Homo sapiens: one gene and its partner. The protein of the gene in region 1 interacts with the protein of each later gene in a pairwise test. Each region holds a gene or a part of one and is shown on either strand. Other genes may lie near its edges.

What was found.
Region 2: the proteins of BUD31 (region 1) and BEND5 interact in binary tests that used the Homo sapiens proteins (3 or more experiments, as listed by UniProt).

Annotation. Positions count from the first base shown.
Region 1 is NC_000007.14:99,399,900-99,414,936, forward strand, and holds the start of BUD31 (protein BUD31 homolog), read left to right. Parts: upstream 1-9,069; 5' UTR 9,070-9,346; exon of another isoform or gene 9,347-9,365; intron 9,366-10,134; 5' UTR 10,135-10,270; intron 10,271-11,164; 5' UTR 11,165-11,193; coding exon 11,194-11,287; intron 11,288-12,045; exon of another isoform or gene 12,046-12,084; intron 12,085-12,289; exon of another isoform or gene 12,290-12,396; intron 12,397-14,078; exon of another isoform or gene 14,079-14,179; intron 14,180-15,037. Other genes in the region: PDAP1 (28 kDa heat- and acid-stable phosphoprotein), read right to left, coding at 404-525, 3,499-3,606, 4,963-5,054, 8,637-8,649. UniProt on the Homo sapiens protein: Involved in the pre-mRNA splicing process. May play a role as regulator of AR transcriptional activity; may increase AR transcriptional activity.
Region 2 is NC_000001.11:48,771,140-48,786,321, forward strand, and holds the start of BEND5 (BEN domain-containing protein 5), read right to left. Parts: upstream 5,753-15,182; 5' UTR 5,693-5,752; coding exon 5,467-5,692; intron 5,023-5,466; exon of another isoform or gene 4,890-5,022; coding exon of another isoform or gene 4,826-4,889; intron 4,792-4,825; exon of another isoform or gene 1,921-4,791; intron 1-1,920. UniProt on the Homo sapiens protein: Acts as a transcriptional repressor.

The DNA of each region.
Region 1 (15,037 bases):
GACTGCCTTCTGGCCGGCACAGGCTCGCAGCCCCCTTCCAGTCCCCATGGCCACGACATTACAGATGGATGCAGGTCAGGAATGGTCAGATCAGTGGGGTAAGGGAAGTCTCCCCAGGGTGTGGTGCTCTGGAAGAGGGGAATGGAGGGCAACCCTCTGTATCCTGCACCATTACCTCAAGTGTTATGCTCAGGTCTGAGCCTGTTGTCCTATTTCCCCTGATATCATGTATCAATTGGTGAAAACAAATTCTGTGTGGCTTTTTAAAGGCTACTGGAGGGCCATTGGGGAATGAGACAGAAATAAACAGCCACAGCTCCCAGCCAGCTGGGGACCTTAGCATCCCACAGGCCAACTGCTGGCCTGTATTCCCCGTGACACAAGGCCCAGCCAGTGATGTTACCGTTCTCTCCTCGAAAGCTCCTTTGGCCCGTCCAGATCCAGTTGTGTGACCTTTTTGGTTGTCTGTGCCACCCGGTTGGGGTTCTCGATGTCGATGAGCCCTTCAACGCCTTTGCGCTTTTGCTAGAACAGGGCAAGAAGCTGGTTGTTGGAGTTCAGGTCCTGTGGAGCCCCTGAGGGCCACTCCTGCCATCTCTCAACAGCCCATCTGGATGAGGACAAACTCCTGCTCCACCCCAGCCCACGTAGTGCTCAGCCCAAGTCTCACAGTGGGTATAGCTCTCTGGAGCATCTTCATCAGCCTGGGAAGAGCCCACAGAACGGCTGCTCGGGGTCGAATAACTTGCCCAAGTCAACCAGGAAGTAGGTGGTAGATGAGAGGTGCGCCCTACCCCGACTTGCAAGCACTCACACAGCACTACTCCCCTACTTCAAGCTCGGCTTCCAAAAGCAGTTTTCCATGGAATCCCATGCCTGATTCTTCTTGCAAAAAGCGCTGGGCTGGAATCCCCAGGGCAGGGTGGGCCAAGTGTGTGCTGTCATGACTAATTCCAATTCCCACCCACCTTAGCTGATGGACTGGACTTGTAACCCAAGAATAAGCTACTGGATCACACACTCTACAGGTTTGGGACGCTGGCCCAAAAACCTGGAATCTGCACCTTCCACCTCCCCTGCAGAAGTTCCAGAAGAAGGGGGTGTGTTCTCAATGCAGCAGGTTTGGTCAAAGTTTCAGGCCCTGTCAATTCCATCAATTCTCCTTAAGGGGGCAGGGAGACAGCTTCCACTCCACAGAGCTCCCTCCACACACTTCCAGTCCAGCTGCACACTTACACCTCCACTCAGATGCCTGGCACTGTAAACTTAACATGTCCAAGACAGAACTCGAGATTCATCCTTTACCCAACCGGACCCTCCCTGCAATCCTAAGCATATCCTTGATTCGTCGTTCCTTCAGCAACCCCCAAATACAGCTTAAATTTGTCCACTCTTCTCCACTGCCATTGTCACCATCCTAGGGCAAGCCACGATTTTTTTTCTTTTGAGACAGAGTTTCCCTCTTCTTGCCCAGGCTGGAGGGCAATGGCACAATCTCGGCTCACCACAACCTCGGTCTCCTGGGTTCAAGCAATTCTCCTGCCTCAGCCTGAGTATTTGGGATTACAGGCATGAACCACCACCCCCGACTAATTTTGTATTTTTAGTAGAGACAGGTTTTCTCCATGTTGGTCAGGCTGGTCTCGAAATCTCGACCTCAGGTGATCCGCCCGCCTTGGCCTCCCAAAGTGCTGGGATTACAGGTGTGAGCCACCACACCCGGCCCAGGATTTCTGATCTGAACACTGCTCTTACTCTCAACATCCTATCATTCACTCTCCATGAAGAAGCTAAAATAATCTTTTTTTTTTTTTTTTGAGACGGAGTCTCACTCTGTCGCCCAGGCTGGAGTGCAGTGGCATAGTCTTGGCTCACTGCACTCCGCCTCCCGGGTTCACGCCATTCTCCTGCCTCAGCCTCCCAAGTAGCTGGGACTACAGGCGCCTGCCACCACACCTGGCTAATTTTTGTATTTTTAGTAGAGACGGGGTTTCACTGTGTTAGCCAGGATGGTCTCGATCTCCTGACCTTGTGATCCACCCACCTTGGCTTCCCAAAGTAAAATAATCTTTTAAAAGCATATCTGGAGGCTGGGCGCAGTGGCTCACGCCTGTAATCCCAGCCCTTTGAGAGGCCAAGGCAGGCAGATCACGAGGTCAGGAGATTGAGACCATCCTGGCTGACATGGTGAAACGCTACCTCTACGGTAGTCCCAGCTATTCGGAAGGCTGAGGCAGAAGAATGGCCTGAACCCGGGAGGCGGAGCTTGCAGTGAGCCGAGATCGCACCACTGCACTCCAGCCTGGGCGACAGAGAGACTCCATCTCCCAAAAAAAAAAAAAAAAAAAAGCATATCTGGTCATGTCTCTCAATCCCTTCAAGGCCTCCCCCAGCTGCCACTACCTACCATAAAGAAACCCCATGCCAGGCATGGTGGCTCATGCTGCTGCAATCTCAACACCTCAGGAGGGTGAAGTGGGAGGATTACTTGAGCCCAGGAGTTGGAGACCACCTGGGCAATATAGTGAGATCCCTATCTCTACAAAAAATTTAAAAATTAGGTAGATGTGGTGGCGTGTGCCTTTGGTCCCAGCTACTTGGAAGGCTGAGGCTGCGGTGCTTCACTGCAGCTTCACTCCACTCCAGCCTGGGTGACAGAACGAGACCCTGTCTCAAAAAAAAAAAAAAAAAAAAAAAAAGGGGGCTGGGCTAGTGGCTCACGCTTATAATCCCAGTACTTTGGGAGGCTGATGCGGGTGGATCACGAGGTCAGGAGATGGAGACCATTCTGGCTAACACAGTGAAACCCTGTCTCTACTAAAAATACAAAAAATTAGCCCGGCGTGGTGGCAGGCGCCTGTAGTCCCAGCTACTCAGGAGGCTGGGGCAGAAGCGCTTGAACCTGGGAGGCGGAAGTTGCAGTGAGCTGAGATCGTGCCACTGCACTCCAGCCTCAGTGACAAAGCGACACTTCATCTCAAAAAAAAAAAAAAAAAAGAAAAGAAAAGAAAAGAAATGCCAACCCCTTCAACAGCTACACAGGAGGTGCCCTTGCCAATTCTCCTCCTGCATCTGGACCACTCCGCTCCTTACCCACTAACTCACAGCTACACTGGCCCCCTTCTGGTCCTTGAACATGCCAAGCTTATTCCCACCACAGGACCTTTGCACTTGCTAATCCAGTTTCTCAATTGCTCTGCACGCCAATTTTCACATAGCTGGCTGCATCTTGTTTTTTCAGATCTCAGTTTATAAGTTGCTTCACCACCACAACACTTTTCCAAGTCCCCTCAATCACAGTCTGTTTTGTTAGTAACACTTCTCATTACTTGAAATGACACTGTCTGTTTACTTCTTTGTTGTATCTCCCGTAGTGTAAACCCTCAAGAGCAAGGACGTTGTCTGCATCTACCTTTGGGACTAGTACTAAACGGTCACTCAACGTTTGTTTGTTGAATGAATGAGTCCAGGCTCTAGGCCCTCAAAAGAACTCAGTACCTGGTAGTCATCTTCTTCATCCTCACTCTCATCTGAGTCTAGAGATTTCTTCTCCTTTTTGGGGTCACCTGCAGCCCCATCTCCACCTTCTTTTTGCTCCTCTTCTTCCTGTTTCAGAAATGGACAACCTGCAGAATCAAAAATGCAAAACAAATCCCCAAGACTGTGACCCTATCACCCCCCAGACTGTGGATCTTGAGAAATCAAGCCTCTGGAAGGCTGGAACCAAGGATGACAAGGGTCCTACTGTGACCCTGGCCCCCAGGGAATGGGACCTGGGCCAGACACAGGCAGCCTATGCACTTAGCACCACAGCTTAGAGGCCATTCCCATAGTCCAGGAAGCCCCTCACACAGCCACAGAAGGCCCTGCTCCCCTTCCTAACGCAGCCACCTCAGCAGCCAGGGTGAGAAGCTTGTTTCCTGGGGTCAGAAGGACTCAGCCACCAGGCTGAAAACCACCATCCTACTCAGCTCCCACCTGCCACATGCAGCTGCCAAATCATGCTGGCATTCCCAGGCGAGTCCTCTCCGCACTCCACTCCCACTCCATGGCAAGTCATCCCCCCGACCCACCCACACAGGTGACCTCCTGCACCAGCTCCCCAGAACAACACCTCGGAAGGCTGCTTCCCTCCACCTTTCTTGCCTTCCCACCAAAAATGTCCCTTATAGGAACCTCATGTCCCTTCACCTCTTGGCACCTGCCCACACATTCTCCATGTCCTGCTCAGCTGCTGGCTCCCCCAAGGACCCCTCCCAGACCCCACAGCTGGATGTGGCCTTTCCCTTCTTGAGACTCCTGGGGTACGTCACAGCTGTGTACCCATCTGGCCCTGACTGCTCCCTTAGGCCCTTGATCCAGGCATCAATCTAATGATATGGTAAGATGCAGATGCTGACGATGGGAATGTATTCTATTTCCTAACGGTGGCCTGGACAATGTACTATGGGAGCAGAGGAGAGGGAACTACTAAATCAGCTCTGGCTGGAGGTGAGGCATGAGTCACAGAGGAGGAGAGGCTAAACAACGTCTCCAGGGATGGAGAGCATGCTGATGCTGGGGGTGTGGGAAGGCAGGGCATATGTCATGTGCAGTGTGGCAAATCATCCTGTGTGGCTGCAGCAGACAAGCAGGGGTGCTGGGAGCTCGAGCTGTGAATGGACAGGTCCTGCAGGAGGGAGATCCTCCTGAAAGTAGGTGCACAAGACCAAGAACAGGGCCCCACTAAAGCAGCTGCTGCAGAGCAGCCACAGTTCTTTCTAACCCATCCAGGCAGAGGATGCCCACGCCCTGACTGTCATTGGTTGTTCTGAGACTCACACCTGGGGCTCACTGCCCGCCCGACCCCCACGTGCTGGCTTGTCCCTGCGAATGGGTAGTCCTTGCCTGGCCTCTCTATGAACCAAATTGGCAAAGCGCCACCCTGGGCCACTGGCGTGGCCTGGACAGGCACGTACTCACCCTGGCCTTCTGCTTCTCAGCCTGCAGCTGCGCGTCGATCTCCTCAGGGCTTGTATACTGCCTCGCCCGGCCTTTGTGGCCTCCCTTTCTTCCTGCAGAGACCCGCAGTTTAGGTGAGCGGAAGCAGCTGCCTTGACTGCTCTGACCCCCAGAGGGCTGTGTCCTGCTTGGAGTACTCTCATCGGAGGCCTCACCTACCCCTCACCCAGCACCACCCAAACCGACACCTCCGCCACCCTCATGTGTTCAAAGGCACGCAGGAAGCAACTCGTGACCATCTGATGCATCACCAAACTGTGTACTAAATGCTGGCTCCTACACAGAAGACCGGAGGGGAGAACATGGCGGACGGTGCACTGCAATGACTTGCTACATCCCCTGGTCCCTTACAATCCAAGCATAGTGGACTCAGATGCAACCACAGAAACATGTACCACTTACATCCCTGCCGTCACTATAAGGGCTTTTTACACGATGTTCTGTCACAGCCAGGGGCACTTTTTTTTTTTTTTTTTTGAGACGGAGTCTCGCTCTGTCACCCAAGCTGGAGTGCAGTGGCGCAATCTCGGCTCACCGCAACCTCCACCACCCTGGTTGAAGTGATTCTCCTGCCTCAGCCTCCCGAGTAGCTGGGACTACAGGCGTGCACCACTATGCCCAGCTTATTTATTTATTTTTAGTAGAGATGGGGTTTAACCATGTTGGTTGGCTAGAATGGTCTTGATCTCTTGACCTCGTGATCTGCCCACCTCAGCCTCCCAAAGTGCTGGGATTACAGGTGTGAGCCACCGCGCCCAGCCAGCCAGGGGCACAGTTGATCCTCGGAACAAACCTATGGTACAGGGGTGATAGCTGGTCCCATTTCATAGACCAGGAGACTTAGACCAAAGCAGACTGCGAAACACCACGAAGTTTAGAGTCCAACTCCCAGGTTCTACGCTTACTGGCTTGATGACTTTGGGCAGGTATTTAACCTCTCAGTCTCAGTTTCCTCATCTGTGTCCCTACCTTACAGGGTTGTCACAAAGATAGATGAATTAATCAATATACAGAAAGCTGCTGGAACAGTGCCTGCTACTGAATAAGCACTACAAAAATGTTCGCTAATATCCAGGCACAGTGGCTGATGCCTGTAATCCCAGCACTTTGGGAGGCCAAGGCGGGCAGATCACTTGAGGCCAGTTCAAGACCAGCCTGGTCAACATGGTGAAACCCCCTCACTACTAAAAATACAAAAATTAGCTGGGCATGGTGTCACATGTTTGTAATCCCAGCTACTTGGGAGGCTGAGAAAGGAGAATCGCTTGAACCCAGGAGGCAGAGGTTGCAGTAGCCGAGATTGAGCCACTGCACTCCAGCCTGGGCCACAGAGCGAGACTCCGTCTCAAAAAAATAAAAAAATCGCTGTTCGTTACTTTTCCCTCTAATCTAGTATTTGGTGGAAAAACAACAACAAAAGCACCACTGAGCACATAAGCAATTTACTGCAGATGTTGGAAACACAATAAAATACCTTGTGTTCACCTTAGTAGTATGGCAAAAAGAGAATACTTAAGGGAAAAAAAAGAAACCCAAACCTACAGGCAAAAACTTTGTGCTTAGACTAAGAAATGACTGGCAAAGTACAGATGAAAACAAACCTGACTACACAGTCTAAAAGTTAAAAATGTGACTAGCAGTTAAAGTGTCAGTTTTATAGTCTGACCCTCTTCAGCCAGAACACCAGGCTGACCCTTGCTTAAGCCATCAGCCAGTTTTAAAGCAAGGTGGCATCCCCCTCTGCTGGTCCCCAAGTATGCAAGGGTGGCTGTGGCCTCAACTTCCACACAGGAAGCTGAGGCCCACCTGATTTCCATAGTCTGTCTCTGTGAGCAGAGACTCTGTAATCAGCCAGAGTTGCTCTGCACTCCAGAGGCGGTAGCAGAGATACTGGCCTCCTCTGATTCCTTACAGCAGCTGCAAAGCCATAATTGGGCTGCTAAAGATCACACCACCCATTTTTAATGACTACCTAGGTTCCCAGGGGTGTCTAAGTCTATGCTTATTAAAGTCCTATTGTGAGAGAGCAAGTGTGCCAAGAAAAAAACCAACACCCTTTCTTGCTCTCTTAATACACCAGGCAACAGTAACAACTCAAAATTGATTACTATAGGCTCTCCTCTCATGCACTTGGCTATGGGACCCTGACCTTAGCTTGGTCCACAGTAATTTTATAGTAGACTCTTCAAGACTTTAAAAAACGATTTGCACTTAACATAATGGAAACAAGCGTTGGTCCTTTGCTCTTAGGGAGTTTGATACTTTTAACACCTTCACGGTTTTTTGTGGTTTTCAGATTAACCCAAGAAAATGTAAACCTTGTCTACCCCAAAAAGCTTTTCACAAGCCCAAAGACCATTTAGCTATGAATTCATATTTAAGGTTTTATCGTTGTAACCTCCAACCTTTACCCAAAGTATCCATTAAGTAAAACTTCGGAGGGAGGATGGCTCATTCAGCAACCTCCTTTTACAGATGAAGGGACTGGGGAACAATAGCAGAGAGACTTTTCCAGCCACAGAATAAATCAGTAGAGAGCTAGGTTTAAACACATTTAGCTCTGTAATGCCCAATTATCTCTGGAGTCAGGAAGCGATTTAGGTTTGAAAACGCTACAGGCAGATGTTTCTGTGGGTTGAGTGCATTAACCAATATAACACATGAGCTACCAACACAAATATATTTGTTCTGTGCCAGGAGGTGGCCAGGCACTTTATGAGCGCTATAATTTTACCACCCCGGCCCCAATTCAACAAGCTAAGGATTAGCCCAGTGTTTCAGATGAGGAAGAGGTTAACTTGTTCAGGGCCACAGAATTAGACGTGACATAGCTGGGATTCAAACTGGGGACTATCGATTCTAAAGGGGGAAACAGGATAGAGAACGGGCTAGAAGATAGAGGACGGGCTACAATGGACTGGGCAGTCATGAACCTACTTACAAGATCAAGAGCTGGCAAAGCCTTAAAAATAAGAATAGTTACTGCTTCACTGGGCACTTTTAACGACTGCCTGGCACTGTACTGCGCACTCCACGTGGATTACCTAGTTGAAGCCTCCCAACAGTACTAAGAGGTAGGTACAATCGTTATTCCCATTGGCAAATGAGAAAACGGAGACACAGGAGGTGGAGCGACTGGCTCAAAGGAACACACCGAGCCGCTACCGAACGGGGGAGTCGAAACCAGGTCTGGAAGGCTCATGGGCATCTCCTTAAGTCCTCCTAGGCAGGCCTGGCTGAACCGAAGCCAGAAAAAGCCCACGTTTTACGCGAGAGGCAGGCGGGCCCGGCACAAGCGCGGGACGCGGTGACTCAGTTCCTAGCCAGCCAAAGAGTGGGATAAATTCCAGAACCCCTAGACCCGGAGAAGCGCATCCTAGATCCGGCTTTCTAGGCCGGCGAGGACCCAGAGCTTCCGAAACTCCTCAGACCACTGACGGAGTGACTCTGGGACACCACAGTCCTCAGTTTCCCCATCGGGACAATTGGGCGTCGAGGCCCAGGCCTGGCTCTCAGCCGGTGCGGACAGCCTCCCTCTGCGCTGCTCTCAGAGACGCGCACGGGCTGAGGGGACAGCGGAAGCCGGACCTGGGCCGCCCCTCCAGGCCTGCGGGCCACCGGCGCCCGCCCCTCACCTCCTTTAGGCATTGCGGCTCCGGCGGCTGCGGCGGCGGCGGCGGCGCCTCGAACTGACACCGGAACCGGAAATAGCTTGGGCTCGACTTCTTCCTCCTGGGCCAGCCGCCGCCGCCGCTTCAGTGGCCGCAGTGGCCGCAAGGACCCGGACCTCAGGGAGGCCTCCGCACGAAGTCGGACCGTCCTGCGCGCCGCCTAAGTCCAGGCTTGCCCGTCTGCTGCCAGGCAACAACGCCCCTAGTCTCTCCGTTCGGGAAGACGCGTGGCCCTGCCTGCCACCCACCGGAAGTGAGGGCAAATGGCAACAGCGGCTCTGGAATTCTATACAGGCATTGCTGAGGACACCTAAGATGACGCAATCTCCGCGCGGGTAGGGCGGGGCTCCGCAAGGACCTCATGCCTTAGAGATCGCCTGAAGAGCGGAAGCCTTCTGTCGAGAAGCAGCTACCCAAGCTCCAGGAGCTTCCGGTATGTGTTTTCCCTCTGTTCTCGATTACCTTGGCAACGGCTGAGGCGGGAGACCGGTGGTCTGCACCGTCCTGGAGGGAGATATGAGTGGCTGGACTCTCAGCCAGCCACTGGGATGTGTTCGGGCTTTGGACCTTGAGGCCGGAGAGAGCTCCCGAGAGGAGGCGGCGCCACGTTCGTTCTTCTGAGGGGACGGTAGATTTGGGGGTTTTCCTCTAGGATTCTCGCGCCGTTTCCTCTGGTAGGAACGTCTTCTGTGTTCTGATTGTTTTTCTAAGCTGGGTTCAGATGCTGTCCTTTTTATGAGTTTTCCCTACAATCCTGCACTATCTTCCTTCGCTCCTCCTCGCCTCCTTCCCCTAGCGCCCCAATCTCTCTTACACCTCCCGGCACATCTTTCTTCTCGATCTGATTACCTCCTACGTCCTCTTTCTCCTCGATCTGGTTACCGCCTACCATTTTCACCTCCGAGAGGCCTCTTCTGACTTCCAGGCTGGATCAGGGCCCTCGAATTTCCCTGGGTCGTAGAAAAGCGATCATTCTCTTGTCACAGACTATGCGCCTTGGGGCCGAGACCAGAATTCACCTATTTTTAGCTTCAGCGTAGGGGAGACTAGTGCGAAGACCACTGATTTGGGAGTCAGGAGCCCTCCAGAGTCAGGTTTTGCAAATTCTCAGCTGTGTGACCCTGATTCTACCTTATAGAGTTTGATTCCTCCTCTATATGGTTGTTTTAGAGAGTTCATGAGAGGAGGCTCTGTGGGCGGGGGGGGGGTGGGTCTTTGTAAAGTGTCAGTACAGAAGGGAGTGACTGAATGAATTTGAGAGAGATGAATCTGTTATGCTGAAAGGTAAATACTTAACCTGGGTTCTCTCTGGCAGCAAGGAAATGCTGTGTGGTTTGAAAAACGCTTTGCTATTTAGATTGGGATCGGCCTCTTGTATGGGAACTACCTGACTTTATGTAATATGTTGTTTGGTGTGAAAGAGACCTTGGCAATCAGCCAATCCACTGCCCTCATTTTACAGAAGAAACAGGACCAGAGAGGGAAGGTGACCTGAAAGTCACAGAATAATTTTTTAGAGCTGAACAAGAATCCAAGCCTGCAACTGCAGAGACGAGAGATCTTTCTGCTGTCTATACTCTTGGAAAGCACATCCTAAGGTACTTTGATTTTACAGTCATCTTTCCCTTTTTATTTTATGTTTTGTTTTGTTTTGTTTGTTATTGAGACATGGTCTCACTCCGTCACTTAGGCTGGAGTGCAGTAGTGTGAACATGGCTAACTGAAGACTTTCAACCTCCTGGGCTCAAGTGATCCTCTTGCCTCAGCCTTCCGTGTAGCTCAGACCACAGGCACCCACCACCATGCTCAGTTAATTTTTTTGATTTTTTTTTTTTTTTGGTAGAGATAGGGTTTCACCTCATTGCTCAGACTGGTCTCAAATTCCTGGGCTCAAGTGATCCTCCCATCTCAGCCTCCCAAGGTGCTGGCCAAGACCAGAATTACAGGCATGAGCCACCGTGCCTGACCTTCCATCTTTGCCTTTTTAAATACTCACCCCCATGGCTCCCCGAGTCACAGCCCTCCTTATACTCTATTGTAATTGCTTTTTCTCTTGTCTGTCTCTTTGCTAAAATGTCACCTTCTAAGGGGCAAAGGCTTAACTTTTGTTCTGTGTTCCCAACATCCAGTATAGGGTTAAGCTTTTAGTTGAAGTTAGCTAATGACAACAGCAAATGTCTCTTAGGCACACATTATACACCAGGCATGATAGATACAATTCTAATGAAGTCTTTGCAATGACCACATAAGGTAGCTTCCATTATCCCCATTTTACAGATGAGGAAACAGAGGCTTAGGAAGGTTAAGTACCTTTCTGAAGATCACAGCGGGTAAGTAGCAGAGCCAGGATTTGAACACAGTCTGGGTGCTGAGCCCTGTCCCATAGCTGTGACCCTATGCTGACTCAAGGAAGTCAGCCTGTACCGAAATAATGGCTGGCAAAGGCCTTTGGGGATTTGAGACTCAGAAACCAATTCATTTTTTTCCCCCAGATCTTTGCAGATTATCCTGTGGAAGGAAAATGCCTAAAGTCAAAAGAAGCCGGAAAGCACCCCCAGATGGCTGGGAGTTGATTGAGCCAACACTGGATGAATTAGATCAAAAGATGAGAGAAGGTGAGTAGGGGAGTTCCTGTCTGGGTGGGCTGGGTCCAAGGGTCACAGGCTTAGATGCCCCCAGGGGACAGGCATAAATGCAAATATAAAAAGAGAGTGGTCTACTAACACTGACATGTTGTGTTTGCTTATGAACTTGGGGAAATACTGTAAGTGCCCGAAAATAAGATAACATTAATGAAAAGGTCCTCAGAAAAGGTGTTTTTTTTTGTTTTTGTTTTTGCCAACTCGAATATAAAAGGTTATGAAATATAGATCAAATAGTCTACCTATAGTTATTTACTATTTTGGTTAGATATATATTTAAAATCATACAAAATATATTTACTTGGAAGTGCTATTCCTTTTCAGTATCATCGATTAGTCTTTGCCGCATCTGTTTTCTGTCACTTCCTTGTAAATGGCGTGTGATCCTGCTTTGTGAACCCGTGTCCTATGCTGTCTTTGGAAATTTTATCTGAAGCCACAAGCATCTGTTGGCCTTATATGATCACAGTGTGGCCACTTACCAATTGACTTTTTTATTTTTATTTTTTGAGTTGGAGTCTTGCTCTGTCTTCCAGGCTGCAGTGCAGTGGCGTGATCTCGGCTCACTGCAACCTCTGCCTCCCGTGTTCAAGTGATTTTCCTGCCTCTCAGCCTCTCGAGTAATTTGGATTACAGGCATGCGCCACCATGCCCGGCTAATTTTTGTATTTTTAGTAGAGATGGGTTTCTCCATGTTGGCCAGGCTGGTCTCGAACTCCTGGCCTCAAGTGATCCACCCACCTCGGCCTCCCAAAGTGATGGGATTACAGGTATGAGCCACTACACCCAGCTGAAGTTACTTTTTAAAGTAGCTTTTGAAATGCTTGCTTGTAACTAACCTAATCATGGTTATTATGAGGTCGTACCTCCAGCAGTAATTACTAAATTAAATCAATGTTAAATTACTTTGCCCCTTTTTAAAAAAACTGTTCGTACCAGATAACTTCTATTAAATACTCAGTACTTGTTTTGCAGTTTAGATTTGGATGGGCCTATTGCAGTAATCACGGTCATTTTGGGCTGAGAGATGTCTTCCCGAAACAGCTCTTTATCAAAATAAAGGAAATGGGAGCATGCTGGAATAGAAGAGATTTTGCAAGTCCTTGAAAGTAAATTAACTTCATCTTCTAAAGGGTGACTTTTGAGGGAAGGAGGAACCCTACTTTGTGTTTAGATATTCTTTACCTCCAGACAGAAGTATTCTTTGTTCTGTTTTCTTTTTGTTTTTGTTTTGAGACAAGGTCTCACTTTGTTGCCCAGGCTGGAGTGCAGTGGTTCAATCACAGCTCACTGAAGCCTCCACCTCCCAGGCTCAGGTGTTCCTCCCACCTCAGTCTCCCAGGCAGCTGGGACTACAGGCATCCACTGCCACGCTTGGCTAAGTTTTCTTTTCTTTTTTTTCTTTTTTTTTTTTTTGAGACGGAGTCTCGCTCTGTCACCCAGGCTGGAGTGCAGTGGCGCGATCTCCGCTCACTGCAAGCTCCGCCTCCCAGGTCCACACCATTCTCCTGCCTCAGCCTCTGGAGTAGCTGGGACTACAGGCGCCCGCCACCATGCCCAGCTAATTTTTTTTTTTTTTTTGTATTTTTAGTAGAGACGGGGTTTCACCATGTTAGCCAGGATGGTCTCGATCGCCTGACCTTGTGATCCACCCGCCTCAGGCTCCCAAAGTGCTAGGATTACAAGCATGAGCCACCGCGCCCGACCAACGCTTGGCTAATTTTTTGTAGAGATGGGGGTGTGTTAGTCCATTTTCACGCTACTGATAGACATACCTGAGACTGGGCAATTTACGAAAGAACGAGATCTAATGGACTTACCGTTCCATGTGGTTGGAGAGGCCTCACCATCATGGCAGAGGCCAAGGAGGAGCAAGTCACGTCTTAACATGTGTACCTGCTGAATCTTTACTACCTGCTTTTCTGCTTGGATCACAGCATTCTGTTTGTTGAGCTGAATTGTAATTCCTAGGTAATAGAATGGCTTAAAAGCTGGAGACAGGGAGGGATAGTCTTCTTGACCACTCTTCGCCCTTCTGTTCTTCCCTAAAAACTGAGGAGGTCATAGACAAAGATGAACTTGTGACTGCTGAGAGAGAGAGAACTGCCTTGCGGCAAGTATGAGTGCCACCTGATCCTGCGTGTGTTGAAGGAGCAGCTTCTGCTGTGGCTACTTCCCTCAGAACCTGTAGACTGGTCTAGTTTATTTAGCTTTTCCTCAGCCCTAAAGGACTTTGGCTGGGAGATGAAATTAGAAGTGCCTTCAAGATGATTAGGATGCCCATCTGTGGGCCTAGAATTATCTTGATTAATTATTACGCTGTAGAAATAGATCTGAAAGCATAGGGACCAAGGTTGGTTTTTTGGCTTTTTTTTGTTTGTTTTGTTTTGTTTTTTTTTGAGACAGGGTCATCTGTCATCCAGGCTGGAGTGCAGTGGCACAATGTCAGCTAACTGCAACCTCTGCTTCCCAGGTTCAAGCACTTCTCGTGCCTCAGCCTCCCGAGTAACTGGGATTACAGGCATGTGCCACCATGCCCAGATAATTTTTGTATTTTCAGTAGAGACAGTGTTTTGCCCTGTTGGCCAGGGTGTTCTCGAACTCCTGACCTCAAGTGATCCACCCACCTCGGCCTCCAAAAGTGCTGGGATTACAGGCGTGAGCCACTGTGCCCAGCCGGGACCAACCTTTTAACAGAAGTTACCATTAAATGTCTTTAAAAATCTATGTTTTCTAATTCTGTAATTAAAAAGACTTTTTTTCTTGTCACATGGGTAATGTGCCAACGTTGTGACAAGGTTTGAGAGTGGCATGTCTCACACATGGATGTGAACACCCAAGCACACTCATGAATTACAAAAGGATCCAAAAATAGACATTTTTAATTTAAAACAATTATGTTTAAATTACTTAGCTTATTTTTTATTTTTTTATTTTTTTTTTTGAGACGGAATCTCACACTGTTGCCCACGCTGGAGTGCAGTGGTGCGATCTTGGCTCACTGCAACCTGTACCTCCCGAGTTCAGGCAATTCTCCTGCCTCAGCCTCTTGAGAAGCTGGGATTACAAGCGTGCACTACCACGCCCGGCTAATTTTTTAATTTTTAGTAGTGATGGGGTTTCACCACGTTGGTCAGGCTGATCTCGATCTCCTGACCTCGTGGTCCGCCCACCTTGGCCTCCCAAAATGCCCGGCGGCTTATTCTGTTTTTAAATAACAGCTTTATTGAGATATTAATCATATACTGTAAAAGTGAACCTGTTAAATTATCCAATTAAGGGGTTTTTAGTATATTCACAAAGTTGTACGACCATTGCCACAGTTAGTTTGATGTTTCAAGGTTCATCTGTGTTGTAGAATATATCAGTACTTACTTCATTCCCTTTTTTTTCTTTTTTTGAGACGGGAGTCTTGCTTTGTTGCCTAGGCTGGAGTGCAGTGGTGTGATCTCAGCTCACTGCATCCTCCGCCTCTGGGTTCAAACGATTCTCCCACCTCAGCCTCCCAAGTAGGTGGGATTACAGGCATGCGCCACCATGCCCTGCTAATTCTTTTGTATTTTTAGTAGAGATGGGGTTTCACCATGTTGACCAAGCTGGTCTCAGACTCCTGACCTCAAGTGACCTGCCCACCTCAGCCTCCCAAAGTGCTGGGATTACAGGTGTGAGCCACCGATTCCGGCCAGCCCTGTTTAACTTCTTGAGGAGCCACCTAACTCTTCT
Region 2 (15,182 bases), on another chromosome or scaffold:
GACCACCTAGTATAACTCAATACTTGTGGAACTTAAATCAACCAGAGAAAATGTCTCCAGATTACGAATGTTCTTCTGGTAGAAAGAGTACACACAACTTCTGTCCCTAAGGAGCTTATAAGACAAAGCAGGTAGGCACACTAGAAAGAGAATTGGTCTTGGTGTCAAAGACCCCAATCTGAATTCTGCTTTCTGGATGTGCTTTTAAAAATAAAAACTGGTGTGCTCTTGAACAGCAAAACACCACATAAAAAGCAACTTGCCTGGGACAATTTTTTATTTCTGCTTATGAACCAGAACTCTGAAGCACTCTGTAGCACATACTATTTAGCTGTAAAAATTGGTGGTTGTTGAACATGAGAAATCACATTAGACTGAACCCTCAATGGTTAACATCCCAGTAGAATCCGCAACAGATGACAGCAGGCAATTTCCAATCTTTGCTCCAATGTATATCAGCAAAACATGTCAAAACCTAAATTAAAAGTTTTCACTCACTTTTTTCAAGAAAATAAATCCTTTTGTTGGCAGTTTCCCACTGATGACACGCAACAATCTTTGCATATGAAATCGGCTAGTCCTCTGCTTCACTGCTAACTTTGTAGAAGTTCCAAAGCATTTCTGGAGCAAATGATCTATTTGGACTAACAATGCCAAGCTGGGACCTGAGCCCTGAATGAGCTAAAATTACCAAAGCAATAAGAACATGGCTTTGGAAGCTATTTCCCCCAAGTGTGGGGTTTCTTCTAGCTAGTTGAGGGAGTGATAAAGAATGTTGACTTCTTCCAGATGAACAAAGTTGAATGAAAACTTAAAATCCTACGGCAGGTTTCTGTTCTGAAAAACAAGCTGCTGCTGCAGAGGTTCCTATCTCCCCTATTTCCCTCTCCTCAAGCACAAAAATGCACCTGTCTTCCCAAAGTTGATGAGTTCAACATGGGCACACCAGTGCAGACTATATGCTGGGCACTGAGGATGCAGGCACAAGGAAGCCAGGCCCCTGTCCTAGAGGAGTTCCCTGTCAGGCAGGAAGAGAGGCACATTCATGACTAATAAAAACAAGACATAAAATGCTACAATCCATAAGCAAGGCAAAACCAAAGTGAAAAGAGAGTTCTGAGGAGGGAGAGAGTCTCTCTTGGGCGCAGAGGGAGGAATAGGGACTACCACTGAAGCAAGGTCTCCAAATGTACTTTGTCCACTCCTTTATCACAGGTGGAGGGGGGCTGGACCACAAACTTCTGTCACATGTCTACCTTCCCCACCTGTAGGTGAGCTCCTTGCAGGCAGAGGCCCCATATCAGACAATGATTAATCCACCTTGGCTGGCTCAAAGGAGTGCGAGAGAGTGTGTTCACAGAAGAGTAAAAAATACCATAGGTCTCAGGGAAAGGGGAAGAGAGAGTGAGGCTGGAGAAGTAAGGTGGGGCTGGGATAGAGCTGGTCTAAGGAGGGCTATGAATGCCAGGCTAAGAAACTAAAACTTTTTTCAGTAGGCAATAGGGAGCTACAGAAGGTTCTAATGAGAGCAGTCAACTAAGACTGTGTTTTAGAAGATTATTCTAAAAGCAATTGGGAAAATAGATCAGAGACATGGTAATCAATTAGAAGACTGCTTCAATAGTTTAGATAAGAGCTGATGCTGACCTGAATGCAGGCAGTGATGGTGGAGCTGGAAAAGAAAAACTTAAAAGATAAACTGCAAAGCCCACCTTGAATTGGTCCATTCTCTGTGTTTCCCCAGTGCCTGGCTTCTACCTTTATTTAGCACTTACTTTGAGGCCCCCAAATTACACACTCCCTGAGGATGATACCCATTTCTTTTCCATCACTCCCTCCCCCACAGAAATCCTACATAGCAGGACATGAAAAGTCAACGCCTGCCACCCCTGGGTCGTGCTGTCATTTCAATCACAGTACCTGAGATGCATAGGTGCACTGGTATATTCACTTAATACAGCACTGGGCCTGGCATACAGAAAGCAGTAAGGAGACATCTGAAACAAAAAAATTCAGCACACTCAAACAACAGTAACAGAGCACAGGTGCCTAGATAGAACAACTTAAAATTTTAGGGCTCTAGGCACAGAGAAACCAGTTTGAGCCTCCTAAAAAAAAAATAAAATTCAACACTATGAGCCCCAGTAGCAGGCTGGATTGCAGTTAGATGATGGTGAGCTCTCCAAATGAGTAGTTCTCACTTTCACAACCTGCTTGGCAAATAAATGAGAGTAAAGAGAGAACAGAGGTCAAAGGTGAGTCAAACTTTGAGTTATGTGGACCCTCCAAGAGGGACAGCCTTAGTGAAGATTTATTCAAGCAAATGCCAACTGAAGAGATAGGCGGGTGGGGGACAGCTGTGTGTGCTCTGTAAGAGGGAGGATGGTAATGGAGAAAGAGCAGAATGGGCTTGAAAACTCAGAAACTAAAATTATACTCTGGCTTGAAAACTTGCCTTGAGCTGTAAGCTTCATGGACAGTTTTTCCATTTCCTTTCACTCCTTCCAAATCATGCTGTGTAGCTGATGGGAACATCGGCTACTTTACAAAGGAGACTGCCAAGTGGGGGCCTGGCACTGGAAGACCTGTGTTCCAATTCCAGCCTTGCCATTTATTAGCTGTGTGGCTGTAGGCAAGTCTCTGAGCTTCGGTGTCCTCATCTATGAAATGGAAATACTAACCACAGCAATACCTACCAAAATGTCACTTAGAGGACTAACAGAGATAATGTGTAGGCATATAGCAAGACTATCAGGAAAGAAGGAGTTTTGTTTTTCCTTGAACTGGGATTGTAATTTGATAAGTAGTGGTATAAACCACCTACTATGGGCAGTAAAATGTAAAGTCCCACAGCAGTCGGCTTTGACATTTCCTGAGTATAAAAAGAAGTATACTTCAAGACAGCTCTGGGCTGGCTTGGGCCAACACTCAGTATAGCAACATACTTCTCACCAAAAGCCAGAAAGCTGTGCTGAAACTACCTTGGAAACCATTCTATTTGTGTCAGAGAGATTAATTAATCAATTAATAGCTAATCCACAAACATAAAGCCACCTCTGCTTCCCACTTGAGGGGATTCCTCCTCACACCTGGTGCCATAGCACAGTGGTATTTACATATAGGAGATGCCAGATGAGCTCTCTGAAGTCACTGTAAGCAATTCTCAGAGCCACCAAGTTTAAGTCAGGAAGGGGTTTGAAGATACATAGGAGTTATTCCAGGGTAATGAATTCCCGAACTCACCCTGGCCCTTCGATCAGGTCTCTATGCAGGGCAGTGGGTACCCAGGAGATCAAAATTCAAAATGTGGTTTGGCCAACTTCAAGTTGTTGTCTTTTTTTCCCCTTTCTCCTCCCAAGAAAAAAACTGAAGAGAGGTAAGGGGAAGTGTTTTTCAACTAATTCAAACTGGCACACTTCTTTGAACCTACTCTGCCAGTTTCCAAATGATGCTTGGGTTTTTTAAATAACCATACAGATTTATCAACATTCTAACTTGGAGGATGAACAGTCTACAGGTTCAAAATTCATGGTTCTCAAACCAACAGCTACATGTATCTTGCTTCTGAGGACTTGTGTCGATTTCAAAATCAGAGCTGGTGGGAGCTGCCATCTGCCTAAGTGGCCTCTCTGCAGTGCCTGAAGAGTCAAGCACAGTGTATATGTATGTTTGCTGAATGAATGAGTAGATGAATGAAACAATCTCCAAGAGAGGAAAACAGCCATTACACACTAAGAAACTTATCACTGACTCTCTTTAACACATCACTTCTACTCTCCTAGGACCCTTCCAGATCTAGGAGTACAATACAATCGTCAAGAAGCATGCATGCATTTTCTTCTAGCAAAAGGGAAGCTAAGGTTACAACCTAGTTATAACTTCCTCAAGCCTATCGTCTTGGGAAATAAATTCCTAATCCTTTCCCTCAGGTAATTAAAGGCAAGTAAGCAAACAAAATAAAACCTAATCAGCTATGAATGGTTCCCTTTTCTAAAATCTGCTTCCCCTCCCTCAGTTTCTTTGGCCCTAGGTGTCTGGCAGTGGGTGGGCCTACACTTCGGTGTGCCAGGGCTTATCAGGGAGGTGGTATGGATAGAGCCTGTCAAAAAGGGTCCAAGTGCTGCTGGTCAGTTTCCAGTTCTTCCACTCTTCAACTTCTGCAAACCGATTTTTCAGAGGCAACATGAGTTGTGAGACTGAGCTAACTTGCCATGAGACCCTGGGCAAGTCTCTATGGGTTGAGAGAATGTTGGGTTCATCTTTTAGGCTAAATGTGAGGAAGCAAAGGAACTTGAAAAAAATAGAGAAGGTCTCAAAATTACAAAACATCTTCATTCAGTCACTAACCCTTCGTGTTCTTTCTGGTAGAAGGCAGGAACACTATTTGCCCACTTTAAGGTTCATTCTCCTTACCAGCAGGAGCTAAAAAGGCTGCTCCCCAAAACGGAGATGATACTTCCCCCTTCCTTGCTTGTCTAGACTCAAACTTTCTGGAACTAGCTGGGAAAGAGGGCCAGCTGTCTTCTCTTTACAAAGGAAAAGGTGTCTCAGCATGGCAGGAAGAACTGGAGCATAGGAGGATAAAGGGCTGGTTTCTTTCCCTATCACCAACTGAACCTCAGTACCCTCATCTACGAAATGGAGATGAGACTAGCTGCCTTAGCCCATCTCTCAGGGCCCTGGCAGGGCAGGGATGAGAGGTCCAGTGTTATTCTGACCCAGAAACTCTCTCCTGGCCCTCAACTCTCTCATTCAGGGAGCCTTCTGGGAGATTCAGAAAGGGGTGTGGAGGCTGAGGGATGCCTTAGGGCCTCTACCTCCTTACCTCTGCCACCTGGCCAGGGAGGGGCAGGAGAGTGTGGTGTGGAGCCCAGTGCACTGAGGTTCATGGCCTCCTCATCCTGTCCAATGTTGGCCCGGATGGGACAAGGATGTCATAGCTTCCCTCTGTGAGGAGGGACTCCCACCTAGAAGATCTGACAATATCCTTCTTGCTCCTCACTCCAAGGAGGTACCAACAGCCTTTAAAGGGAGAGAGACAGACAGCTTGAGAAACTTAATTCTTGACAGAAAAGAACAGAGGGAAGGAACTGGGAGAGAGGTAAAGAGAAGGTGAGAGAGAAATGACGGTACAAACAGGTAGGGAGAAAAATGGAAAGTGAAGGAACGAAGAAAACACAAAGAATCAGAAAGAGGAGGACAGACACAGATGAAGAGATGAAGACGGACTGACAGCGCGGGAGCTTCGGGGAAGCGGGGAAGACAAAGGGGACCATCCGGTCTTTTTAACTGGCCTGGCCTCTTAGAGACACCCCGTTCCCAAATGAAATGCCCAGAGGACGGGAGAAGGAGGCAGGAAGGAGCAAGCAGTGGCTCCCCCCGGTCCCCTCCGCCCGGGCCCCCGGCCCCTCCCGGGGTCCCAGCCCCCGCCCGGGTCCCACCGTCCCTCCCCGCCCGCTTGCTCACCTGCCAGCGCCAGGATCTGGGCCTTGTGGAGCAACAGCGCGCCCCAGTCGCGGGGGGCGCGCGGGGGGCTCTCGGGCCCGGCGCCCAATTCCTCCGGGCCCCGGTACACGGCGTACACCTTCTGGTTGTCAAAATCCAGCCGCGAGCGGGGGCTGAAGTCGCGCACGCACGACACGGGCAGCGCGTAGCAGACGTTGTCCTCCAGGAACCGCACAAAGGCGTACATGGTGGGCGCCGGGGGCGGGCCCCGGTCGGGCAGCTCAGCCCGCGGGGCGGGCGCGGAGGTGGGGATCCGGCGGGGGGCGCGAGTCTCGCTACGGTGCTGGGGGGGGCGGGGGCGGCTCCCCAGGACCCAGGCTCCCCCCACTGTTATTGTTCCTGAAAGCACCGTTCTGCCAATCGGCTGCTTTCGCCTGGGCGCGGAAAAGGGAGGGAGGGGGGGAAAGGGGGACGAGGGGCGGATGAGGGGGGTTTGGAAGCGCACTGCCACTTGCAAAGTCAGACCCGAGCAATCACAGCCGGAGCGCGATTCGAATGGGGAGGGAAAAGGGTTCAGAGATTCAGTTGCAATAAAAATAATAACAAGAGCATTGCAGGAAAAAAATGCATTGATTAAAAGGTGCGCTGCGTGCAGGATTATATTGCTTCAACAATCGCGCTGCCAAATTGCATTGCAACAAAACTGCATTGCCAAGTAGAGAAGTGTATGAGTGAGTGAATGCGGGATAGGGGTGGGGGCAATCTTGATTGAATCTCAAAGTGTAAACTTGGAAGCCAGCAGAAGTTTGGAGTGTTTTAAATGTAGCCACCCTACCCGCGCCCCCAGCCCCGCACCCTCCCCGCGCCTTTCCCAGCCCTTAGTTTGGCCCCGCCTTTTCTTTGCTTTCTTTCTTTTTGTTTGTTTGTTTGTTTGTTTTGTTCTGCAAAACTGCCAGCTCCCTCTGTGGAAAGGGTCAGTCAGACAGAAAATTTCCCCTAGAGCTGCCAAACCAGTTCTGACCAGAACTGGGGCTTATCTGAGATTTCCAGTTGTGCCAGCTGGCTGGGGAGGTGGAAGGTTTGTCAAGGGCTGCTCTCATCTGAGGGAGCAGTGGCGCCCCTCTCCTCTATAGTCTTTCTCCATTGAGATACCCTCTCCACAGCACGCCCACCACTGAGCAGGGACAACTTGGAATCGCGGAGGGAGTTGAGGAGCGCTCTGGGTAACACAGGCCCAAGGCTAGGGATTTCTGGAGCACTTTGAAGAGTACAGGAATAGTACTCCATGGAATAGCGGTCTTTGCTCTGTCTCTTGCCAAAGAGAGCCTGGAGGGGCTTGGGTCCCCTCCAAGACAAGCCGTGAGGACCAGCCAAAGGGGGCTGATTGGGCTCTGTACTCATAGGAACCCTATCCCACATCAGAGGAGGTCAGTACCTTCACAGGGATGCCTCGTATCAAATATGGCTAGTTATATTTCTGTTGCCTAGCCAGACCTGGCACTTGACAGGGAGTTAATGAATTTTGGGTAAAGAAGAATAAATAAAAACCCACATCCATCCATCCATCCATCCATCCATCCATCCATCCATCCATCCAACCATCCATCCATCTGTTCATTCATTCCTTTATTCAAGCAACCAATATTCACTGAGTTTACACCACCTGCCAGATTCTGGGCCAGGTGCTGGTGATAGAAATGAAAAGATAAACACCTGGATTCTTGGGCCTTGCAAAGTCAGTGTACCAGAACTTGAATCTCAGTTTTGGGTTCCTGTGCCAAAATTAGGTAACTGTATGAATAACATACCTTTCCCATCCTCACAACCTTTACAATCTAGTCTAGGAGTATTAAAGAAGTATAAGCAAGTAATGACAGTATAATGAGAAAAGTATTGTCATAGAGGAATGCTTAATGGAGGTGTTGGACTCAATTAAATGTTATATTTTTAAAAATTCATCTTAATAAACTTTAGCTGTAAGAAAAAAACAGAATAAGTGCACCAAAATGTTAATAGTGATTTTTTTAGCTTCTTAGTAGTGGTAGATGATTTTGTTTTTCCTTGTATTCATTGTGTGTGTGTGTGTGTATGTAACTATTTTCCACAATGTTTTATTACTTTATCATCAGAAAACATCAAACATTATAAAATCAAAGCACTGTGCTCATATTTCACATCAGCTGCACTGACAATGAGGCAGATATTTATTTCACTGTGAAATAGACAGTGCGTTATATAAGTGAATCCCATCAACATATAGCTCTCATATCCAAATGTGTAGGTCAGTACAAATTTTTTTAAACCAACCCACTGGTTATGTGGTACAGCCAAAAATGACCACCACTTGTCCTGATGCAGCTGTTGGTCTTATCTTGCCCCACAAGCTTGTGGAAAAAAAAGGAGCCACTCTGAGTTGTTCCAGCACATTTACTGTCATGATTATGATTTCTTTGGACTGATCCTCAGTGAGTTTTTATTTTAAGAATACATTCCTATGGTGGTCAAGGGGAAGTAATGTGCAGCAAGACTTCTGATAATTCACAAGATGGATCATGCAGAGTTGGCCGTATTTAACAAAAGTCCTTGAAGCTCCGGACTATGTTCCCAAAATGATTTCAAGTAGCCAATGGCCAACCTCCTCTCTGCATCTAAATGGGGGTGACCACAAAACATTACCAATCTCATCTCTTACTACCTTCCCAGACACAGTACACTCCAGACACCTAAACTATTTGACATTTCCAAAGATAGCATGTTTTAGCAGGTCCCAAGCTTTTGTGCTTTTTCTGCCTTCATCCTGGGAAGTTCTTCCTTCCTCAACTTACCCTGAAAATCAGCTCAAATGTCATTGCCTTTGTGAAGCCTTTCCCAACCACCCACACTTTTCAAGGATAGCCTATCTCTTTCTACTACAATATTTTGTCCCAGCACTTTTTATCTTCCCTCACTAGAATAAGAGCTCTTTGAGGGGAGGCAAAGGCTGAGTAACTTTAGCATCCCAGGTACCTAGCACAGGGCTGGGGAGTAAATGTTTATAAAACAAATGTATTAAAGAAGGACATAAAGAGAGCATGAATAACAAACCTCTTGCACATTTTTTCTTGAAAGTCTGTTCCTCTCTTTTTTTTTTTTTTTTTTTTTTTCTTGAGACGGAGTTTCGCTCTTGTTGCCCAGGCTGGAGTGCAATGGCCTGGTCTCGGCTCACTGCCACTTCCACCTCCCAGGTTCAAGCGATTCTCCTGCCTCAGCCTCCCAAGTAGCTGGGATTACAGGTGCTCGCCACCACGCCTGGCTAATTTTTGTATTTTTAGTAGAGACGAGTTTTCACCATGTTGGTCAGGCTGGTCTCAAATTCCTGACCTCAGGCAATCCACCCTCCTCGGCCTCCCAATGTGCTGGGATTACAGATGTGAGCCACCGCGCCCGGCCTTTATTATTATTAATATTATTATTATTATTACACTTTAAGCTCTGGTATACATGTGCAAAACATGCAGGTTTGTTACATAGGTATACACATGCCATGATGGTTTGCTGCACTCATCAACTCATCAACTACATTAGGTATTTCTCCTAATGCTATCCCTCCCCTAGTCCCCCAGCCCCCCACCCCCCTACAGGCCCCGGTATGTGATGTTCCCCTCCCCGTATCTATGTGTTCTCATTGTTCACCTCCCACTTATGAGAGAGAATAGGACACAAACAAATGAAAAAACATTCCATGCTCATGGATAGGAAGAATCAATATTGTGAAAATGGTCATATTGCCCAAAGTAATTTATAGATTCAATGCTATCCCCATCAAGCTACCATTAACTTTCTTCACGGAATTAGAAAAAACTACTTTAAATTTCATATGGAACCAAAAAAGAGCCCATGTAGCCAACACAATCCTAAGCAAAAAGAACAAAACTGAGGCATCATGCTACCTGACTTCAAACCATACTAGAAGGCTACAGTAGCCAAAACAGCATAGTACTGGTACCAAAACAGGTATATAGACCAATGGAACAGAACAGAGGCCTCAGAAATAATGCCACACATCTACAACCATCTGATGTTTGACAAACCTGACAAAAACAAGCATTGGGGAAAGGATTCCCTGTTTAATAAATAGTGTTAGGAAAACTAGCTAGCCATATGCACAAAACTAAAACTGGACCCCCTCCTTACACCTTATACAAAAATTAACTCAAGATGGATTGAACACTTAAATGTAAGACCTAAAACCATAAAAACTCTAGAAGAAAACCTAGGTAATACCATTCAGGACATAGGCATGGGCAAAGACTTCATGACTAAAACACTAAAAGCAATGGCGACAAAAGCCAAAATTGACAAATGGGATCTAATTAAACTAAAGAGCTTCTGCATAGTCTGTTCCCCTTTTTAAGGGTTGATGCTGAATCCCAACTCTGCCTTTCCCATTCCCAGTGATCGAAGGGCAGAAGAACATTGATTCTACCACTTGTAAGACAGACACATTCATTAACATATTAAATATCACTGCACCCTGGGGTTCAAATTCCCTACCCATGTCACTGTAAATCATTCCTATAAGGAGGCAGTTCCATTTTCCGATAACCCAGAAAGAGGAAAAGAACAGACGATGGACCCGGATGCTGACAGAGTAAACACAGATCAAAACACATGTTTCATAGATCCACAGAATCGATTCTGGAGTAGTCATGACTGGCACGGGATGCTTAAAGAGATACCCTTGGACGGCACCAGAAAGACGTCAGTTCCTGCTTCCTGTGTGACTCACACATTCAGTCTATGGATACAGCTTAATGGAAAACCTACTATGTGCCATAGGGCGCCTCTTCCACCCTACTGAAAACTGAGCAACAGTACTTTGACCTGGAGACCATAGCCCTGGGCTTTACACATACCAGATACTCAAGATATTGATGATTCATTGACTGGTGAGCAAAGATAGTTTAAATACAGATTTCAGACTTAAAGAGGCAACTGCAAACTTCAAGTTTAACCAAATCATTGTTGAATCCCCTCTTCAATATTTCTGCCAAATGGGCATCTAGAACACCTTTTATACAGTTCTAATGCCAGGAAGCTTACTAGCTCCCCTTAACTTTTATACATTACCAAGTGTTAGAAAGGTCTTTTTTACTTGCACTGAGGTAGAATCTTTAACCTTATAGCAGCCATACTAGGTTCACCAAGACTCTCACGCCTGCCCTTCAGACATGGTGAAACTTGGAATCCTGTCTCCCAGCTCTTTGTCTTCTGCCCAAACATCTTCATTTCCTTCACCTGTCTCTCCTCATATGACCTGGTTTCAGTGATGATAATTGTAATACCTATTTTTTCTCTAAAGCTTATAAATCATGCATGCCAGGCGCTGTGTATACATGATCTCAATTACTTCACACCAAATTCTTCAGGTGGGTGTTATTAAACACATGATAGAGTTGAGAACATGGAGAACTATGGCAAAGCAGTTTGGCTCTGGGGAGCCCTGGAAGGCTTGTGGTTATATTTCAATTTTAGACAGTTTGCTCTAGAAACATTGTGGGGAAGGATTGGAGGGGACGCAAGTCTGGGGAGACAGAGGCCTGCGAAGACGCTGACTGTCCTGTCTCACCCCTCCCCCGACTCTCTTTTTCTGTGGGCCAAATGTGCTTTGCCTTTCATCCAAGTCATTTTAATGGAGCAGAAAATGTACACATCTGGGGCAGCTTTGCAACTGCATCTCCACTCCACTCTCCTGTTGAGTTTTGCAGAGCCTTGGGTTAATGTCAGGCTCCTTTGGTTTAGCCAGCTGAAGCATGTTCAGTGGCAGCAGTGGGACTTATGTTTCATATTACTACATGGAATTCTCAATGTAGTTTGCAAAACTATTTTTAAGGAGACCTGGGTTTTGTAAATTTTTAAAGCAATTGGAGCGTGCCTTTTCAACCTCTCTGCTAATGATTGACCACATTTTTTCATGATTTTGCCTTTTTTCCCTGTGATGTTTGATTAGACTTTTCAAGTCTCTGCTTTTTACATTTTTGAAAGACTTTTTAAATAGTAGTTTTAGGTTCATAGTAAAATTAAGAGGCAAGTACAGAAATTGCCTTCATACCTCCTATCACCCACACAGGTATAGCCTCCTTAATACCAACATCCCCCACCAGAGTGGTATATCTGTTGCAACTGATGAACCTACATTGACACATCATCATCACCCAAAGTCCACAGTTTACATTTGAGTTCACTCTTGGTGTACGTTCTATGACTTTGGACAAAAATATAATGGCATGTATCCACCATTATGGTATCATACAGACTAACTTCACTGTCTTAAAAATCCTCTGTGTTCCACCTATTTAGCCCACCTCAGCAGCCCCAACCCTTGCAACCACTGATCTTTTTACTGTCTCCATAGTTTTGCCTTTTCCAGAATGTCATATAGTTGGAATCATACACTATGTAGCCTTCTCAGATTGGCTTCTTTTACTTAATAATATGCATTTAAGATTTTTCCATGTTGTCTTATGGCCTTTTACATTTTTTAAATTTTCCTATTTTGCCCAGAAAAGTAATTTGCTGTGCTGCAAGCTGAGGGCCACTGTCTTCTCAGGTTGATTCAAGGAAGGAACGTTGATACATGGCCAGGAGGATCTGGAGCTACTGGGAGGCCTGTAGTGGGCATTATCCTGAGCTGTGTAGTCACACCATAAAGCAGGGGCATCAACCCAACTCATTCATATGCACTCCTGCTCATGAAGTCTGATTGAGTCTGCTTGTGGGATTTTGGGCAGGGGAAGAGAATAGCAATGCAGAGGGGGAAGGAAGCAAAGAGAGGAGCTGCATGTTGGGTACAGGCTTAAAGGCCAATGAACATCACCTGGATAAGTTATCCAGGTGAGACTTAGAGGGAATGTAAACTTGTCATGTAGATGACAGATTGGAGGGCCAAAGAAATGTGGGCTTAGGAATCAAACCAGTGGTTAAAACCTGACTTTGTTACATCTTTGCTGTAACTTTAGGCAAGACAATTCACCTCCATGAGCCTCAGCTTTCTCACCTGTGAAGGTGTTGTGAGACGTGGGCCAGGAATTTTCCACCCTTTCTGTGTATAAGGATCACCTTGGGAATTAAAAAATATTCCATCCCCAGGTCCTATCCCCTGAGACCCTGATTCAATTGGTTTGGGATGGGGCCTAGGCATTGATTTTTTTTGTTGTTTTTTAATTCCCAGAGTCTTCTAACATGAGACGAAGTTGAGCACCTCTGAGTTAGAAGATCTTAAGGTAACATGCCAAGCACACAGGAAATTCTCAACAAGTCATAAATATTATTATTTTCAGGAAAAATATATAGGGATCCTAAATGTCTATCTAACCTTGGGGAAGTCACTTAGCATCTCTGAGTTATGATTTCTTCATCTGAAAAATGACATGCCAATGTAAAAAGAAAACAGTATATTTAGTCTTAGGCTCTGGGTCCAAATCCTGGTCTGATAAGTAACGTCTATTCTTATGGTGTGGCCTTGGGTATGTTTCTTAATCTCTTCAAGCATCATTTTCTTCATAAGAATATTAATTCAACTTCACAGAGATGTTCTGAGGATTAAATGAGATAATCTATGTAAAATGCTTGGCACAGTGCCTGACACTGTGGTGAGTTCTCAGTAAATGATTGCTGCTGTTACTGTTAAAATAATTATTATAGTTATAATTATAAGAACACATATCCCCATTCTGACACAGAGTGGGGGTGTCCAATATATTTTTACTGAATCAAATTGAATATAACAGACTGAACAATGCTAATGATAATCCAACAAGCATCCTAGAATGATTCCCGCCAAATGCTGTCCCCTTCAATAAAACTCTGTGGTCATGGGTCACAGTCACTAAAGAAGCTCTCTAATTTCAAATGTTCAAGAGCCTCTGAGGCCACAGGGCTTGCCCAAACCTGCAGCAAATACTTCTGAAATACTGTGTTTGGGGCCATTCATTCTTTCAAACTGACTTTGTTGAGTATTTTTTTAAGAGAAGAAATAAAAACTTCTATGCATTATATAAAATGTAAAGTGTAGAAGCGTTTACAGCAATCTGAAGCCTTGTGGATGTGCACATTGGCTTGAAGTTCAGTTCAGGCAAACTGCAGTCAAATTCAACCATTCAGATCTCAGCTATCTTATGAGCTCATGTGGGTCACAAATGGAAATCATTGGTCAAACAAATGATCTGAATCCCAGCATTTTACTAGTAGTATAATATACTCTGCATAAGCAACAAAAAGTAAATAGATTCCCTGTGGTTAAAGATGAAAATAAATTTATTAATGTAAAAAATTGTCACAAAGAACCAACATTTGAATTCGTTTTGAAAAAGAAATGAAAAGATTGACCTACCTCGGAAAAATGCAACTCGCTTCTTGAAATTATGAATTTCAATTAGGGGCCAACTAGTTTGAGAAGTTGCCTCTGGTTTCCTTTATTAAATTAACTCATTCTGTAATTTTTCAGGTGAAATGTCACTTCCTCAGGAAAGTCCTCCCTGACTCACTCCTTCCATCCCCCTCCATAGACTAGCTCCAGTCCTTCTTACACACTTCCATGGCTTCTTATAGTTTTCTTCATGGAGTGTATCTTAGTATGTAATTATGTGTTTATTCTATTATGGTCTATCTCTGCCTATAGATCAAAGCTCCATTAGAGAAGTGACCATATCTGTTTTCTTCACTGTTGCATCCTTGTGCCTAACCTGGCACATGAGAAACCCTAAACAGACACTTGTTGAATGAGTGCATGTCTGAAAGGCAGACCCTAAAGAACCCCCCTACCCAGAGATGAGAGGCAACAGGTGTACGAAGGGCCATATTCTGTCCCTCTAAGTCTCATTTTCCTCTCTGTGTTTCTGTGCTTCCACCATGTCTGGCTCCTATCTGACTGGAACATCAATAAAAGCCTATTTCCCATTTTCCCTTAGCAACCACTGGATAGTTAACATTTTCAAAATGTTTTTCCAAATACGAGGAGAGAACAAAATGGAAATAAATAGAAAAATGATGTACACAGAAGAAAAATAGTCAAGTTGACAGTCACACATGGTGGTCATACACTAATCCTAATAATAACATAATAGTAGCAGGAACCTCATTGACACAGTCTCTGGGCCTTCCGGGAAACAAGATGGTGATTCTGCCTTATTCCACAAGGCTAGAGTTCTTTCTTATCCTGTTGTTGTTGGCTGGAAGTCACTGACTCTCTAACCCCCTACTTAGTTAAGGAGAACCCTGCCTCATTCTAGTCTTCTGATGATTCCAACATCATTTTTGAGACAATAGGGCAACCTTCCTTCAGAGACCACATTAGTTCTCTGGTTATCATCTCTGCTCATCCCAAGCACCTGGTGGTTCAAAATGCCTGCCCTTCACAAGTCCTCATAGGGCCAGAGTGTACCCCTAGACTTAAAAAAAAAAAAGACAACTCTAGGTTACCATTCTGAGTCAAAGGCATAAAGGAGAACATTCGTTCAGAAGGTTAAGTCATCTCAGAAGTATGCAGCAAACTGTGAACTCTGATTTTCTTAAGAATGTCTCTCAACCACACCAGAAAGTCAATACAAAATCAGAGGAGAGAAATGAAAACAGAACTAATGATTATTGATTTCCATGATAGGAACTGTACTAACTGCTTTACATATTTAGTTCTTTTAATCTTTTCAAAATATCCCATAAAGTCAGTATTATTAATATCTCCATTTTTCTGATGAGGA